2 separate regions of the Homo sapiens genome follow, and region 2 is linked to region 1. The links come from fine-mapping of genetic effects on gene expression. A gene starts in region 1. The other region holds a variant in brackets. All regions are shown on one strand. Distances are between the middles of the regions.

What was found. PIP is the estimated chance that this variant, and not a neighbour inherited with it, causes the effect. A credible set is the group of variants that fine-mapping cannot tell apart.
Region 2: its variant is the best candidate, but not a certain one, in a credible set for the expression of STMP1 in subcutaneous fat (GTEx, PIP 0.57).

The regions. Positions count from the first base shown.
Region 1 is chr7:135,660,115-135,665,490 of GRCh38, forward strand. It overlaps STMP1 (short transmembrane mitochondrial protein 1), which reads left to right and starts at 2,400. Exons shown (of 3, transcript NM_001130929.2): 1 at 2,400-2,480. The coding sequence starts at 2,466. It also overlaps the pseudogene RPL15P11. RefSeq lists silencers at 2,275-2,494, 4,967-5,261 and enhancers at 3,134-3,658, 3,659-4,183.
Region 2 is chr7:135,608,177-135,613,552 of GRCh38, forward strand. The region is part of intron 22 of NUP205 (nucleoporin 205); the gene reads left to right. Among named protein-coding and RNA genes, the nearest start is that of STMP1, 52 kb to the right of the region's middle. The variant T/A (reference allele first, on the strand shown) is at 2,794.

The sequences.
Region 1 (5,376 bases):
GCTGCTGGCAGTACTGCCAGCTATCTGCTGTCCACGGGGCTCCCTGCCCCACCTGGCCTGATAAAGCACGCCAGCTGGGCTACAAGGCCAAGCAAGGTTACATTATATATAGGATTCATGTTCACCATGGTGGTCAAAAATGCCCAATTCCTAAGGGTGCAACTTATGGCAAGCCTGTCCATCATGGTGTTAACCAGCTGAAGTTTGCTCGAAGCCTTCAGTCCATTGCAGAGGAGCGAGTTGGACACAACTGTGGGGCTCTAAGAGTCCTGAATTCTTACTGGGTTGGTGAAGATTCCACATACAGATTTTTTGAGGTTATCCTCATTGATCCATTCTATGAAGTTATCAGAAGAAATCCTGACACCCAGTCGATCACCAAACCAGTCCACAAGCAGAGGGAGATGTGTGGGCTGACATCTGCAGGCCAAAGGAGCTGTGGCCTTGGAAAGTGCCATAAGTTCCACCACACTATTGATGGTTCTTGCTGGGCAGCTTGGAGAAGGCGTGATACTCTCCAGCTCCACCGTTACCACTAATATAAGTAAAGTTTGGGCCAGGCGTGGTGGCTCACGCCTGTAATCCCAGCACTTTGGGAGGCCGAGGCGGGCGGATCACAAGGTCAGGAGATCGAGACCATCCTGGCTAACACGTTGAAACCTCGTCTCTACTAAAAATACAGAAAATTAGCCGGGCGTGGTGGCGGGCGCCTGTAGTCCCAGCTACTCGGGAGGCTGAGGCAGGAGAATGGCGTGAACCCGGGAGGCGGAGCTTGCAGTGAGCCGAGACTGCGCCACTGCACTCCAGCCTGGGTGACAGAGCGAGACTCCGTCTCAAAAAAAAAAAAAAGTTTGTAAAATTCGTACCTAATAATTTAGGACAGTCATGTCTGCTTACAGGTGTTATTTGTCTGTTAAAACTAGTCTGCAGATTGTTTCATGAATGCTTTGTCAAATTATGAAAATTAAAGTGCAATAATTTTTGAAGACAATAAGGGATGGTGTATCTTGTTTCTAATAAGATGAACTTTTTTTGTCTTTGCTTTATCTTATTAGGGAGTTATATATCTTATTAGGGAGTTAGTGTTTAAAACATACTGTGTGGTATAATAGGCTTAAAATAAATTCTTTAAAAGAGAAAGAGAGAAAAAAACACACACATACACAGACCGGAAGACTGACAGAACAGACTCTTTGTGGCGATGATACAAATTGTCAACAGGACCTATGGCCATCCCAGGCAAGAAACCCAGCTAGGCCAGTGAAACTGAGAGCCAACCTGATGAGGCCTGCCAAATGCAACTTCTCTCACTTGTTTTTAGTCACCTGCTTTTAGTGGATTAAAAAACCCACATAGCTAAAGTCACAGAGCTAAACAATATATATCTAAGCTCCCACTATCTTCCTTATGGATAACATCTCTGACATCTGGGTTGCTTGATAAAGGTTTCTTGTTTTTCAGGAAGTTGGGGTCAGTTCTTGTACAGTTTAAACCACCAACCTCTCAACTGGGCCTGCATGAAAGCCCGATGGGTGTCCTTCTGACATTAGAGGGCCAAAACCTCCACACTCAGATCATGCTAAGGATGTCATTTTGTGACCATGTATCCTATAAAGAGCCATGAAGCTTGACTACCTCGCGCAGATAACCCATTGCCAAACTTTTCCTTACCTTCAACCGCCTTTCCCCACACCTCAGACCACCCTGCTCCTCTATCCCATAAATATCCCTAAAACCCATCTTTGGGGAGGCAGATTTGAGATCTGTTCTCCCGTCTCCTCGGCTGGCTGCCTGGTGAATAAACCTTTTCTCTGCTACAAAACTCATCATCTCAGTGACTGGCGTGCGGCACACGGCAGCATGGGCCCCATACGGTACCCAGCCTCTACCTTGATTACACAACACCTGATTACACAACGCTGATTACACAGCACACCTGCGGAGCTTTGAGAGCTACAAGCCTCCTTTCCTCCCCGCAAAGTCCAGCTGGGCCCAAGTAGAGGATGCTGCAAAAGCCCCCACGATTCAGCTGCGAACCTAGGGATGGGACCCGCTGCTCATGCCGTCCTTCTAGGTTAGAGAGCCCTAAACTGGGCTGTGTATCAGAATAGTCCGCGTGCTGAGAATAATATAGATTCCTGGGCCTCGGCCCAGGTTTACAGAGGCGGGATGCTCAAGGATGCCCAGCCAGGCTCGGGACTTGCTCTTCGCAAGTCCTGTCGCGCGCTCGCTGCCCCGCCGGTTCAGGCGGTGAGGCCAACGCGCTCCGCCAGGGGGAACCTGGGCGCTGCGACACTGCAAGTCGTTTCCGGGCGCGGGCTGAGTGGGAGGAGCGGGGCGGGGCGTGGCGTGACCCGGAAGTCGACGAGGGGTTCCGCCCCCCCCGCGCATGGGGAGGTAGGCTCGGACCGGCCCGCGGAGCTGCTGCAGTCCTTCGCGCCCTCCTCGCCCTCCCCACCGACATCATGCTCCAGTTCCTGGTGAGTGGAGCTGCCGAAGAGCGGGGCCCGCTGCCTGGGGCGTGCCTCGGACCCCATTTCCCCCTTGAGGATTGCCGACCCCGCCGACCCGGCCTGGGCGTGGGTCCAGCGGTCCCTTCGTCCCCCGCGCCTGGTCGTCGCCTCGCAGGGCGGCCGTTTTCTTCCTGCCTCCCCAGAAAATCCCTTTGCCAATATTTTTCTGCAGCCATCCAAGTCCCTAAAACTTTGAGGTGTCAGAGAGTGTGCGTTTCCAGAGCTTCTTATTGTGTGCCGCGCCCCGCGCTCATTGTGCAATCTTTGTATTAAAGCTTGTGTGGTCCTTGATGACTTTTCGTAGTCCGCCCCCCTTTCTTTCTGCGCTCCTGTTCCATTACATGGTCGCCGGCCGGTCCCTGCTGTGGAGCCCTGCTAGTTGGCTTTTCTGAGGAGGTAGGAAGGCCAGGAATAAACCGTAAATTAGCCACCTCACGAAGTCCGAGAGGCTAAGTCCTCATCAGACCTTTCAGAGTTGGAGGAATGAGTCAGACACTGGTATACAAGTAATTTTTCCCAAAATGTGTAAGCATGAGTAAGCAGACTATTTCTCTTGGCTCCTTATTTGAGTTAAAAACGAGTTTTCTGGCAAAACTCGGTATATTTCAAAAATTGCTTGGTGAAGGTTCCAGGAGTTGCTCATCAAATTTTCAAGTGAAAGTTTTTCTGCCAAGCTATTGTGCATTCAAAACTTGATGCTTTCAACCTCTATTTTTTTTTATTTTTTATTTTTTTTGAGACGGAGTCTCGCTGTGTCGTCAGGCTGGAGTGCAGTGGCGCAATCTGGGCTCACTGGAACCTCCGCCTCCCGGGTTCAACCGATTCTCCCTCCTCGGCCTCCGGAGTAGCTGGGATTACAGGCGCGCACCAGGATGCTCAGCTAATTTTTGTATTTTTAGTAGAGACGGGTTTCACCAAGTTGGCCAGGCTGGTCTCGAACTCCTGACCTCAAGTGATCAACCCACCTCAGCCTACGAAAGTGCTGGGATTACAGGCGTGAGCCACTGCTCCCGGCTCAAATGCTGTATCTTTTTTTGTTGTTTGTTTTAACGGAGTCCCGCTCTGTCGCCAGGCTGGAGTGCAGTAGTGCGATCTCGGCTCACTGCAGCCTCCGCTTCCTGGGTTTAAGCGATTCTCCTGCCTCAGCCTCCCGAGTAGCTGGTGCGCGCCAGCAGGCCCAGTTAATTTTTGTATTTTTAGTAGAGACGGGGTTTCACCCCGTTGGCCGGGATGGTCTCGATCTCCTGACCTCGGGATCTGCCTGCCTCAGCCTCCCAAAGTGCTGGGATTACAGGCGTGAGCCTCCGCGCCCGGCCCCAAATGCTGTATCTTTATCAAAGAGATTAAAACACAAAATGCACCCCTTTTGTCCTTTTGAAAGATGGTAATGGATTGTTAAATCCAATTAGTCAAAAGAGTGTCCTTAATCTGCCCAGCTAAGACAGGGCTGCTCCTTTGCCTCTAGGAGTTTCTGTAGTGTCCTAACTAGATGTTAGTTTAGGAGTTCAGAATAATGACAGTCATTTTCTTGTAGTAAACACTAGATTAAAAGCGGTATCACTTAGCTCCAGAGTATAGAATGATGTAATTGAGCTGCTTACTATATCTGTTGCTCATTGATAAACTGAGAGGACATGATTCAATTACAGTTAACTTTCTAAGTGGTTTTGCAGAATGAGTCTATTTGGTTTTGCAATAAACTTTTACTGTGTGTTAATTTTTTTTTTTTTTTTTTTTTTTTGAGACAAGGTTTCTCTTTGTCACCTAGGCTAGAGTCCAGTGGCACAATCATGGCTCAGTGCAGTCTTTAATTCCTGGCCTCAAGCAGCCTTCCCACCTCAGCCTCTTTAGTAGTAGCTAGGACTACAGGCCCGCACTACCACCCGTGACTAATTTTAAAATTTTTTTTTTGTAGAGACAGGTCTTGCCTAGGCCTCCCACAGTGTTGGGATTACAGGCATGAGCCACCACTGTGCCTGGTCAGATTCTGATTTGAGAATTCAGAATTCTCAGTATTTAAGGAGAGATGCTAAAGCTGTCAATTATATTCCTAGCTCAGAAGTAACTGAACACTGATGTTCTCTCACCCTCTGGTCTTCCACCTCATTGCTTTTTTTTTTAAATAAGTGGATAGCATTACTTTTCACATTGATTCCACCTCTGTCAAATGAGCCACTGACTCTAAAGTTGAGCAAGTATTTCTCTTTGTGTGCAGTCATTTCATCTATTAAAAAATGACCATCATGTTCTAGTGTTTAAGAGATTAAACTTCAGAGTCAGACTTCTCAGTTTGAACTCTGCCTCCCATCATTTTCAAGCTGTGGTAGCGTGGGTGGGCTATTGAAATTTTCTGTGCTCCCATTTCCACATCTGAAAATGCAAACCCACCTCACAGTTTTGTTGTGAGGATTAAAAATGAGTTAACACATTAAAGAACTTAAAAACAGGAGCACTCAACAAGGATTCAGATAGTGTTCAGTTTTTCTTTTGCAGGGTTCATTTGAACCCTGATTGAGTTTCTTCTCAAGTGGGGATTAGCTTCTCTCAGAAGGGTAGGTGATAGGAAAGGTTTAGAAGTGATGAAACAGTCACAAGTTAAGCAGTGCGTTGTCATTACACATTTTGGAACCGTCTAAGATGTTTCTCCTACAGTTGTGATTTGTGGACAGTTTGAAAACCACTGCACTTGCTTGTGTTGGTGATAACGTCCTTCCATTATTCATATTCCTCCTCAGATTAAAATATTCTCCCTTTGTCCCTATCTTGAAGAGACCTTGTTCCTGTGATTTTCCCCTTTTCTTTTACTGCAGTTTTTCCCCTTTATTATTACTATTTTTAATAGTGGAGATAGGGTCTCACTATA
Region 2 (5,376 bases), 52 kb before region 1:
CACCATGCCCAGCTAATTTTTGTATTTTTAGTAGAGACAGGGTTTCATCATGTTGGCCAGGATGGTCTCAATCTCTTGACTTTGTGATCCACCTGCCTCGGTCTCCCAAAGTGCTGGGATTATAGGCATGAGCCACCGCGCCTGGCCAGAAAGCACTTTTTAATAACCAAATAAATTAAGAAGTCCTGTATACAACTATGTTAAGTGGTAGAATGTCAGATTAACATTTAAACTATAATGAGGGCTGGGCCTGGGCATGGTGGCTCACGCCCATAACCCCAGCACTTTGGGAGGCTGAGGTGGTCTGGATCACTTGAGGCCAGGAGTTGGAGACCAGCCGGGGAAACATGGCAAAACCTTGTCTCTGCTGAAAATACAAAAATTAGCTGGGCGTGGTGGCACGTGCCTGTAATCCCAGCTACTTGGGAGGCTGGGGCATGAGAATTGCTTGAACCCAGGAGGTAGAGGTTGCAGTGAGCCAAGATCATGCCACTGCACTCCAGCTGGGTGGCAAAGTGAGACTCTGTCTCAAAAAAAATAAAAATAAATACATAAGTAAACTATAATGATAATTTATAATTTCGCTTGTTCACTTTTGTTTATTGTTTTATTCATTTTATAAGTGTTTTAAAAACTAGGCTTGGCCGCGTGCAGTGACTCACGCCTTTAATCCCAGCACTTTGGGAGGCTAAGGTGAGCAGATCACCTGAGGTTAGGAGTTAGAGACCAGCCTGGCCAACATGGTGGAACCCCATCTCTACTAAAAATACAAAAAAAATTAGCTGGGCCTGGTTGTGGACGCCTGTAATCCTAGCTCCTCAGGAGGCTGAGGCAGGAGAATTGCTTCTACCCGGGAGGCAGAGGTTGCAGTGAACCTAGATCGTGCCACTGTACTCCAGCCTGGGCAACAAGAGCAAAACTCCGTCTCAAAAAAAAAAAAAAAAAAAAGAACCAGGCTTTATAAGCTGTGACTAATTTCTCAATTTAAGTGTTACCCTAAATTTACATTTTTAGGATAAGAAATGGTGGGTCATGAGATCAGGAGATCAAGACCATCCTGGTGAACATGGTGAAACCCCATCTCTACTAAAAATACAAAAATTCATCCTGACTAACACAATGAAACCCCATCTCTACTAAAAATACAAAAAATTAGCCGGGCATGGTGGCTGGCACCTGTGGTCCCAGCTACTCGGGAGGCTGAGGCAGGAGAATGGCGTGAACCCGGGAGGTGGAGCTTGCAGTGAGCCGAGATCGCGCCACTGCACTCCAGCCTAGGCGACAGAGCGAAACTCTGTCCCAGAAAAAAAAAAATACAAAAATTATCCGGGCATGGTGGTGTGTGCCTGTAGTCCCAGCTACTTGGGAAGCTGAGGCAGGAGAATGGCGTGAACTTGGGAGGCGGAGCTTGCAGTGAGCCGAGATCGCACCACTGCACTCCAGCCTGGGCAACAGAGCGAGACCCCATCTCAAAAAAAAAAAAAGAAATGCATCACTAACCTCTTAGTGTTACTGGCATGGATATTTTTCTTTGTTAATCTCCTGCTTTTCTTTTTGTAATTCTTTACTATCTTTTCTGTCCTCCGGCTGTCCAAACATCCCTTCACTGTAAGTACTATAGCTAGGTTTTCCTGTAAATCAAAATTAATTCTTCCTTATGGGGGAACAAATTTGATGTACATATTAGCACAGATTTACAGAATTTGATATATAAGTAGAAACAACTGATAAGCTTAACACCTAGGCTAATGGCAGGTGAAGTAAATGAATGAAGCCAGGGTCCAGTTAAGGGAGTGGGAGGAAAGGAGAATCTGGCAGACTGGAGAGCATGTGCCTTCCTACTCATCCCTGGCTTATTTTACCATGCCAGAGTGCAGGATTTGTTGGGCCAGATTGTCTGAATTTTTATTTTTATTTATTCATTTTTAAAAGAATTTGGAAATCTGAATTTTTGTTAAAGTTGTTCTAACTTTTAGAACACTCTACTAGCCAAGGAAAACATGTCCATACCAGCAGTTTACCAGTTTATAACATACTCTCTGTTGTCGTTGTTACTGTTTTTTGAGATGGAGTCTCACTCTATTGCCCAGGTGGAGTGCAGTGGCACGATCTCAGCTCACCGCAACCTCCACCTCCCGGGTTCAAGCGATTCTCCTGCCTCAGCCTCCCAAGTAGCAGGGATTACAGGCATGTGCCATCACACCCGGCTAATTTTGTATTTTTAGTAGAGAGGGGGCTTCACCATGTTGTCCAGGCTGGTCTCAAACTCCTGACCTTAGGTGATCCACCCGCCTTGGCCTCCCAAAGTGCTGAGATTACAGGCGTGAGCCACCGTGCCCGGCCATAACATATGCTCTGTGACCTTGCTACTCAAATATGGCCCAGGGACCAGTATCATCAGCATTATCTCCTAGGAGCTTATTAGTGCAGAATCTGAGGCCCCACTTTAGACCTGATGAGTCAGGATCTGCATTTTTACAGAAAGCACTGCTCCATTTATAACTAAATATACTCCCTATACCTATATGTTTGTACTTCACCCTGCTTCAGAAAAAAATTTAAACCTCTAAGTAAGAAGAGCTTGTTAGTTTAAATAAATCTGATTGTAGCAAAGGGAAATGGTCCTTACTGATACCTTCCTTGTCCTGCAACACAAGGGCTTCTGGGTGAAGAAGTTGAGGCCTGGTGCCTTTGCCCTCTTTTCTTTAAGAACGGAGATTTCTTCTACCTGGTCCCTGGTCTTGGAAACCAGGAAGGATATAGCCCACATCTTAATAAAATGGCTTTCAGTGC[T/A]TTTTGAACTCACTTTTTGTGTCCTTCTCTTCTTTTTTTTTTTTTTTTGGGTGGGGGACAGAGTCTTGCTCTGTCGCCTTGCCTGGAGTGCAGTGGTGTGGTCTCGGCTCACTGCAACCTCCATCTCCCAGGTTCAAGCAATTCTCGTGCCTCAGTCTCCCAAGTAGCTGGGATTACAGGCGTCCCTGGGCCACCACGCCTGGATAATTTTTGTATTTTTAGTGGAGACGGGGTTTCACCATGTTGGCCAGGGTGGTCTCAAACTCCTGACCTCAGGTGATCCGTCCACCTTGGCCTCCCAAAGTGCTGGGATTACATGCGTGAGTCACTGCCTGGCAGTTCTCTTCTGATAGTATTATTTCTTCCACTTGTTAGAGTATCTTCTTGTGTTTTCTTAACTCCCCCAGTAATAGACCTAACTGATTTTGTTTTGAGAAGTTCGGTATTAGCTTAAGTTTTTGTTTGTTTATAGAATATCAAAATGGTATCAAAACTGTTTAAAAGGTCAATGTACATCTGTAGCAGAGCTTTTTACTCTTTTCCTTGTCTTCTTTCTCTTTGTGTATATACATTGTTTATAGTTGTATTCAGTATACATGAAATTTTGTGTCTTTTTTACTCCTCTCTGTATAAACTTTCTGTGCTGCAACAATGTAAATTACATTCAGGTTGTTTCCAGTTTTTTTTTTACTCTGCTGTAGCGAACAAAAAAACAAAAATTAGCCAGGCGTTATGCCATGTGCCTGTTAATCCCAGGTACTTGGGAGGCTGAGGCAGGAGAATCGCTTGAACCTGGGAGGTGGCAGTTGTAAATAAATAAATTACCTTTGGTTGTTTTGTATTTTTCTTAAGAATATATTTCCAGGCGGGCACTGTGGGTCACACCTGTAATCCCAGCACTTTGGGAGGCTGAGGCGGGTGGATCATGAGGTCAGGAGATCAAGACCATCCTGGCTAACACGGTGAAACCCCGTCTCTACTAAAAATACAAAAACAAAATATTAGCCGGGTATGGTGGTGGGCACCTGTAGTCCCAGCTACTCAGGAGGCTGAGGCGGGAGAATGGCATGAACCCGGGACGTGGAGCTTGCAGTGAGCCGAGATCGCGCCACTGCACTCCAGCCTGAGCGACAGAATGAAACTGCATCTCAAAAAAAACAGAAGAAAAAAAAACAGAATATATTTCCAGACAAGGGTTTATAGTCAGTTCTCGTTATTCACAGTAGTTGTGTTTTATAAAGTCATTGTGAAAACTGAATTGGTGAATTCATTGCCCCTATGGAAAATACAGGCTAGGATTCCTGCAAGTGTCTGGTTCCAACATTCTTGTCAACTGATGAATTCATAATCATGTTTTATGTGTGTTTCTGTTTAAAGACACCTTACTTAATGTAGTTGATTCATTAACATTAAACTCATAGCCAACAGCACTATAACTCAGCCTGAATGAAATTTATCTAATGTAGTATTTTATCTTAAAGGCATATCACAGCCTTTTTGCACTTAGGGACAAGGCAGCATTTCAGCACTATGCTTGGGGGCTGTTTTAAACAGCAAAATCAACAAAAAGCACAAAAATGCAAAAAACGTGGCACTAAATAGACCATTTAAAGAACCCTTTTTATAGTATGATAGCTGGAACAGGAAAAGCATTGCTCCATTAGAGAGCATGAGAGTTCGGTGACTGCAGTTTGTAGCTGTTCTCCCGCGCATGAAGGACCATGGAAGCACTGCAAGTATTGATTTTGGGATTTTAAATAAATTTTAGCATGTTAGGTGAATTTGCAAATATGGAATCTGTAAATAATGAGGATTGACTGTGTTGGGTCAAAGACTATCAAGAGTTTTGGCTTTAGATTTTAATTCACAAGTAGTCATAACAATTATACTAGGTATTAATAGTGCTCAGAATAAACATGTCTTAAAGTGCCTGGTACATGGAAAGCATCTAATAAATGTTCATATTAGCCACGCATGGTGGCATGCAATTACTGTAGTCCCAGCTACTCAGAAGGCTGAGCTGGGAGGATCACTTTAGCCCAGGAGGTTGAGGCTGCAGTGAGCTGTGATTGCACCACTGTACTCCAACCTGGGTGACAGAGTGAGACCCTGACTCAAAAAAAAAAAAAATTTGCTGATTTATAATATGATACCTACCTATTATCATCTTGATTTTTTTTTTTAATTCCTGAAAACAGATGGACATTTTTTATTATGGGCTATTTTTATTTTTCTCATATAAAATGTCTTTTACCATATGGGCTACTTTTACCATCTGGGGTACTTAGATCTTTATGTTATTCATATCTGTAATGGAGATCTTTATATATATTAGAGCTAGCAACTTTTTCTTATATTTAATATAAGAACTTTTTCTCTTATCTATTCTTTTTTGTTAAATTTTTATTCAGTTTATTGTTATTTAGTTGAATTTATGGATCTTCTTTGTAATTTCTGCATTTGCTTTAGTTTTGGTAATTTTAATCTTCCAGAGGTTGAGATGTAACTCTTATGGTTCTCAGAAGTTATTTCCAAGTAATTTGCTACTAATAATTTTTTTCTTTTCTTTTTTTTTCTTTTTTT